Homo sapiens: one gene and its partner. The protein of the gene in region 2 purifies or fractionates together with the protein of the main gene of each other region. This does not show direct contact. Each region holds a gene or a part of one and is shown on either strand. Other genes may lie near its edges.

Region 1 (3,653 bases), on a different chromosome or scaffold from region 2:
AGTGGAACCCCGTCTCTACTAAAAATACAAAAATTAACTGGGCATGGTGGCGCGCACCTTAGTCCCAGCTACTCGGGAGGCTGAGGCAGGACAATTGCTTGAACCTGGGAGGCGGAGGTTGCAGTGAGCCGAGATCATGCCATTGCACTCCAGCCTGGTGACAGAGTGAGACTCCATCTCAAAAAAAAAAAAACCAAAAAGATAATTCATTTGTGATAACTCTTCCATTCAATTAAAGTTAAGTCAGCAAGAAATCAAAAAGGGGTGAAATCTAAGGCTTGGTAACTCATTACTACTTCCTTGCGGAGAAATGCAAATGAACCTATCCTTAAAGCAAGCAACAAACTGTTTCCTTTCATTACAAAGCTCTAATGAATTGCAAAAATCAAGATTCACATATAGCCCGTATCTCCATCACTAACCACCTACAGGCCAGACATTTCATCGGTTTCATCACATTTGTTCAGAATTCCCTGTGTCCATGGGGATGCTGGATACTTATGGGTGAGCCCCAGCATTTCTCAGCACAGGATGAGAAAGGTGAGCCACCCAGCTCTTTTAGCTCCATTTTTTCCTAACATTTAATGGGTCTGAAGAAATTTCCCTTACTTACCCTCCAAAAATATTTCCTGTTGGCGTTCTTAGGAACTGTGTCATTGGTGTAGATTTCACCTATTAGGGGTCCAAAACGTGTGCCCTTTGGTATGTATTCTTTACTCATCACTCCAATAACCTAAACAGGAAAAAACACAGGAAACAATTACTTTGACTATAAAATGTTAACCAATCTTTTCAATTAAATAAATTGGACTGTCAAGTAGTAATACAACTAACAATGATAAAATTTTGATAAGTAAACAGACATTAATGATGCCTACATAATTAACAAGCTTCACCATAGGGGGAGACCATCTTTTAAAGTCTGAGATCATAAGCAAATACTCAACCAAGCATTAAAACAGTCTAGGGGATTATTGTCTGGTAATACGGGATCTTTTATTTTTATCATTACTTTTTATGCTAGAACAGCGAATATAACCATTCTCTTTTAGAATGAGAATAAGACACTGCAGAATTAGATGGTCAAGATTAGACCATTTCAGCCTGTTCCTAGTTTCCTATTTCTCATTCTCCCTCAAACCATAAGCATAGTGTGCTTGAGGGGAATAAAATAGTTCTGACCTCAGAAACCAAAATAATGTTCTTTGGTTGTTCCATAACAGCCTAAGGAACCAGAAACCAAATGCATTATGTTTTTTTCATTCCAGATGAGGTTTGTGTGTGTGTGTGTGTTTTTTTTTTTTCATAGCTTGTACATTCTCTTTAATAAGAGATCTTTCAAGTAACTTTGTTCTTCTCTGGCCTTCTACTTTGTTCTTCTCGAGTCTTCTACTCAAGAGTGGTCAAAGGCCCTCGTGTGTGTGTGTGTGTGTGTGTGTGTTTTAAAGACAAGGTCTCCCACTATCACTCAGGCTGGAATGCAGTGGCTTGATCTTAGCTCATTGCAGCCTTGACCTCCTGGGATCAAGAGATCCTCCCACCTCAGCCTCCTGAGTAGCTGGGACTACAGGCATGCACCATCACGCCCAGCTAATTTTTGTTGTTATTGTTGAGAAGGGGTCTCACCATGTTGCCCAGCCTTGTCTCAAACTCCTGGACTCAAGCGATCCTCCCACCTCGGCCTCCCAAAGTGCTGAGATTACAGGCTGAGCCACCATGCCTGGCCAAAAGCCCTCCTTTGAAATTAAGTTTATACGGAGGAAAGCTGTAGGTTCTAAGATCTGAGGAAATGACCTCAGACTGGATGCATCACACATTTTAACTTTGTGGGGCCTTGCTAAAGAAACATGTTAACTATACCAGTTCCTCCTTAATAATAAATTTCTCTTTGAAGGGGTAAAAAAATCACCAACCGTGAATCAGGAAGCAATTCGTCACTATTCAATAGAACTCCTCTGTGAGTAGTCCTTTACAACAGTTTGCAGTTACAGTTTTGTTTTGGTTTTTATTCTCTCACTTTCCTAGTTTTATTTTCTTCTCATTCAAGATAGCCTACCTATCACTTTACTGAATTCTTTACTAAAATGGACCAAGGAGGAGGGAGTGGTAATAGATGATAATGTTTATTTTCCAGTTTTTATATTCCCAGTAGCTCCTGTACATTCATGTACCTGAAATGGTAGACTCAAATATGTGAATCGATCCATGCACAGATTGTTCACAGTGGAATCTACAATTTTGGTTACAATATACACCAGTTCCTCATTAAGTCTCATCAATAATTTAAACCTCTATTTAAATAGATATGGCACACCTACATGCCTGTGACAGACTAGCTTTTCTCATTTAAGTGTCTTATCAGCCAATGATTTTTTTTTCTAAAACAATTTAGTATTCAATATACAAATCAATGAAGCATACTCAGACTGGAAAGAGAAAAAAAGAAAATTTTCCTACACCTAACATAAGTTGAAACAAGAGTGTTATTTTTGGTCCTTTAAGAATTTCTGTCAGAGAGCTGAAAAAAGCAGATGTTCATTTCATCCTCCTCCTCTGCCTTCATTTACATCTATCTGCCCTTTTAATCACCGTTTGTCATTATTGGTATTTGTTGGCAGTAAAACTACTGGGGACAAGAGTATCTCAGAGCAGTCTTGAGATATAAATATATATATTTAAAGCTTTAGTAGACTTATTCAGAGGCTCATTGTTTTGGACATATTATTATTGAATCTAATTAATTTGGAAAATTAATGGAATTGAATTCTATGACATGCAAATCATTTAACATTCATATTTCAGTGATTATTCCATAATATTAGAATGACAAACAGGAAAAACAAATCATGCCATTTGTTGGTGAGCCAATAATTAGCAGTTGATATTTTCAACATATCTACTTTACAACAGTAATTTTAAGAAAGGCACTCAACTGGTTCATCAACTTTGTTTTAAATTATAGTCTCTTACAGATGGTGTCTTGGGAGTCAGAGCTTGATTACCAAAACGGAGCACTGCACTGAGGTCGTGGTTCTTCTTCCAAATTGCCATTCTTTTACAGAATGGGCCTCTAGGTTTTCAGTTATCCATCTTACACACATTTTCTTGTGCCCAAAAAGAAGTCAACTAGAAAGCATAAGCTACCCAATACCTATTTGAGCACAACTATAGACTCATCACTAGTAAGCTATAAAGCAGCACCGGAAGTAGCTCTTGCCATCTCTAACCTTACAAATTCAATTCAACAGGCAAGACAGGAGAACAATTAAAAAGAGAAGGCTCTGTGGTAGAAGAGAGGTCTATGATAATCCTCAAACCCCAGACAAATTAAAGAGCTTCAATATTAGCTTATCATTAGGAAAGGGACAGAGCGCCCTAATATTTTAAATTTCAATTACATACAGTGCTATAGGGCACATATAAACTCACACCTATAGATAAAGATACAAAATCATAAAATTTCAAAACTGGAAGGCACTTACAAACCACCTATATCCATTCTAAGTCTAGCGTTCTAATATACAGTAAACATCTTCATCTCAAATGCACGTCTGAGACACAGACGCCATAAAAGCTGAAACTCTAAGACTATGGTGCTTGTCCAGGTAACTTTGGAGGGGGAACAGGAACCAGGATTGTTTTTAAAGGGAAGT
Region 2 (3,653 bases):
TTCTTATAGGGTTCCTTCCTAGTCTTTCAGAAACCATAAAAAAAAAAGAGCATCTTTCCAATGGCTGAGAAAGAATGAGTGGTGCATGCCTCTGATTGTCTCTGATTCACATGGAAATTTCAAGATCATGGGGATTTTCTTGCTCTAAGAAAGAAAAAAAAAAGGTTTGAATTGAAGATATCTGTATAATTGGTGAGGTGCATGCTAATTCCACCAATTCGATAGCTTTATCCATTCTACTTCACCAATTTGTACATTCCAGCTCCAGTACTAAGAAGCTGACAGTTGGGTGAAACCACCTCAAAATTAATTTCTTCTATACTTCTAAGTATTTTACATGAAAAAACAAAGGAATGATGCGGCTTATTGGTACGTGTTAGGAAGGTTCACTGGCTAAATCTCTGACATTTAAATGTTATGGCCACACTAAAAAGCACAGTATTTGATGTACCAATGATAAGCAAAATAATCAAAAGGTTTTAAAAAAAAAGCTTGCAGATAGTGAAAGTACAGGTAGCTTACATGTGCCTAATACTAAGTTTTGAAATGTCCTCATCTGTTCCCAACCTTATGCGACTGTTTTTAACAATGACATAACCTACAATGATGTAAACATGCAATTACCTTACAGAGGCACTGATTCCATCTGCTTTGTGAAGGGGCTTGATTTCTATAGGAATGCTCCAATAAGTACCAATTACCTAATCTCTCTTTGGGTGATACGAAAACTTTGTATTCTGCGTTATGTTACTCAGTGCAATTTCAATGTATACCTTGAACAAGCAGGCATGACTTATTATTTTTGTTATAGCTGTTAACTTAAACAAGTGAGCTTCTCCCTTTTCAAATATGATTCACTGACTGGAATTTGAGAAGAGAGAGCCTGTGATAGCAGGGCCACATCCATGCCTGCTAGCTCCACTTAAATGAGAAATCTCCATCTGGTCAGGTAGCTGGAAAAATTGCCGTGTTTTCCACCTTGGATCAGATATCCAATGGTGCCTCTGATGGACATTTCTCATTTCCTATGGAAATACTTACTGGTTGCTGTAGGTGAAGCTGCCTCACCTTCAGTGGATGTAGTGATGGGTTTAGTATCTGTCATGCTCAGGGTCACAGGTCGCACTGCACTGGGATGGGGAGAGGGTGCCAAGACAGGAGTGAAATGGCCAGGCACTTTCCCTACTACTTGACCACTGCCGTTAGGCTACAAAACAAAAACAGAATGCCGGGTGAAGCAATCCAAAAGGCAGTCATCTTGTTCAACAAGTCCACTCAGCACACACGACTGTGTGGATCCAGCACACTGCGCATAGGCGCCACACAGGCCCTCTCGAGTCGGAGTCGGAGAGGCCAGTCAATGGTTGGTAGTAATAAGGAGCAGCAGCATTTCAAAGAAGGTTTTCATCTTCAAAGCACGTCATGGTATAGGTGAATTCCTCTTTACAGCACCCCTGAGAGCCAGGTAGACTTGATCCTTTCATGTAGTAGGCCAAGAAACTCAAGTGCAGACTTAAATGCTTAGCCCAAAGGCTAAAATGGAATTCCTTACTGAACTAGCTACAGTTGGAACCCAATGCTTCCTTATTCTCTGCTCTTCATTTTCTATAATGAGTCAGTTTTGGCTTTTAGAACACAATTTTCACCTACATGATGATATCACTGAAACAAAGGACACAAAAATATCTAGGAGATCAAATACAACGAATTCTGGAATTTTCATCATTTACAGTCAAGAACCATTCTCCTGCATACAAAACTCTAGCTCTCTTACACACAGGTGTGCTGAGATGCACACATTAGGCAATTTAGATTCCGAGATCTATGGTCAACTTTTGATGATTTACTAATACAAGAAGATAGAATAAGATGTAAAGCATCTAAAATTTCAGAGGTCATACAATGATATAAAATGCTGAGCTACGTTTGTCCTTACACCTACAAATAAAAGATTTCCAAAGTAAATTAAACTGTACTGAGGGGAAGCAGAGGACAAGCAAATGAGCATTGTTATTTGAGTTACTCTTACATCCATGGTGGTGCATGGAGAGTTACACAAAACATTTCTTGTTGACATTTGTGAGAATTAACTGAGAAAATCCCCTGGGCAATGATAGAAAAGATGTTACTATCTGAGTTTTAGCTCCTGGGTACAAAAATAGTTTCCGTGGTAGGAAACAAAATCCTAAGGATACACTCTTTGAAGAAATAGTGGAATATATTTTTCTAGACTGAGAATGTTATTTTTGATTATACCCATGTTGGAATTCTCCACTGCACGGTGTTCATCGCAATTTGCTGGGAGGCTATTCTCGGCAAGTATATAGTCTTTATAATCTGAACTGTTAAAGGCAAAAAAAAAATGAAGCAGAATATTTTTCTAAATATCTGCACATAAATTACAAGTAGACATTTATTTAGAGAAAAAGATGAACAGCTAATAACACTTAAATATTGTGACTTAGAGACATGAACTAAGTCTTCGGTTAGGCTCCTCAGAGGCCACATTATTTATTCTATAAAGAAAATGGACTTCCTGAATATCCTGATTATTCATCATGGGTAATTTTAAGTATTTAACTTGATGTCAGGAAAATTGACCAGAGTTTTCCAATATGGAAACCTATGGGAGAGTTACATCTTTAAACTAATTTTATTCAAAATATTCCATTGAATAGCATGACTGTCTCACTATAATTGGTGCAGCAGTAATGCAATTAATCTCAAAATTGCTGTGGGGAGGAAAAGGCATCTCAGTTGCTTATCTTAAAAATCAAAATCAGTGCAGTGCTGGAGAATATTGGGAAGCAACAGCTGACTAGAAGTGAATGGTGAAGGAATACTGATGTTTTTCCATTTCTAAAGCTAAAATGGTAAATACCAAGAATTCTAATTTGAAATGCAAATTAATTGGTTTTGAGTTGGAGTTAAAAATCAAAGCAGATACACTGTTCCTTAAAAAAAAAATCTGCAGTTAACTATAAAGACCCATTTTTCCTTTCAAAGGGAAAAAGTAGTTTGTTTCTACAGCAGGCCATCCATTTCTGGTTATCTGAACACTGGAAATAAGTGCTTTAAATATCTTAAGAAAGAAGACAGGTCTCATTTTATCATTGGTGGTACATTCAATGGTAAAAATGTTTCTACATACAGTGTTCACCAAAACAGTCTGAAAGTACCTACCTGGAACAAAATGTCTGGAGCAGAATGACAATAATTTCAAGGAAATGCTGCCACCAAATATATTATCCTACCCTGACCATTCTACAAACTTCACCTACTGGAATTGAACAACATGAACTAGTAGACACTTCTCTCATTTGAAAAGAATAAAGGTGACAAAGAAAGAATTCCCAAGTCAATGCAGACAACTTTCCTAAAACTCAGGGTGAGAAGAATTGAGGGCTATTTTCTCCTCAGTTTTCTACTGGTTCAAACAGATGAAGCTACACTAAAAATTTCTATCTTTTAAGGCTGTTAATAGATGAACTTTCATACTGTAGATAGAAAAGAGAGATGTCTTGTCTGAAGGTGAAGCTAACAGCATTAGGAAAGGATTATTCTACTTTATACACGGTTCCTATTATACAAAATCCTGAGAGTTTTTTTGTTGCTAGTTTTTCTTTTTCTTTTTTTTTTTTTTTTGAGATGAG

Evidence for each region. The genes of interacting proteins can lie anywhere in the genome.
Region 1: the proteins of NFIB (region 2) and PRDM1 purify together in Homo sapiens (co-immunoprecipitation; one large-scale study listed by IntAct). This does not show direct contact.

The regions. Positions count from the first base shown.
Region 1 is NC_000006.12:106,092,695-106,096,347, reverse strand, and holds part of PRDM1 (PR domain zinc finger protein 1), read right to left. Parts: intron 734-3,653; coding exon 614-733; intron 1-613. UniProt on the Homo sapiens protein: Transcription factor that mediates a transcriptional program in various innate and adaptive immune tissue-resident lymphocyte T cell types such as tissue-resident memory T (Trm), natural killer (trNK) and natural killer T (NKT) cells and negatively regulates gene expression of proteins that promote the egress of tissue-resident T-cell populations from non-lymphoid organs.
Region 2 is NC_000009.12:14,115,140-14,118,792, forward strand, and holds part of NFIB (nuclear factor 1 B-type), read right to left. Parts: intron 1,208-3,653; coding exon 1,069-1,207; coding exon of another isoform or gene 1,042-1,068; intron 1-1,041.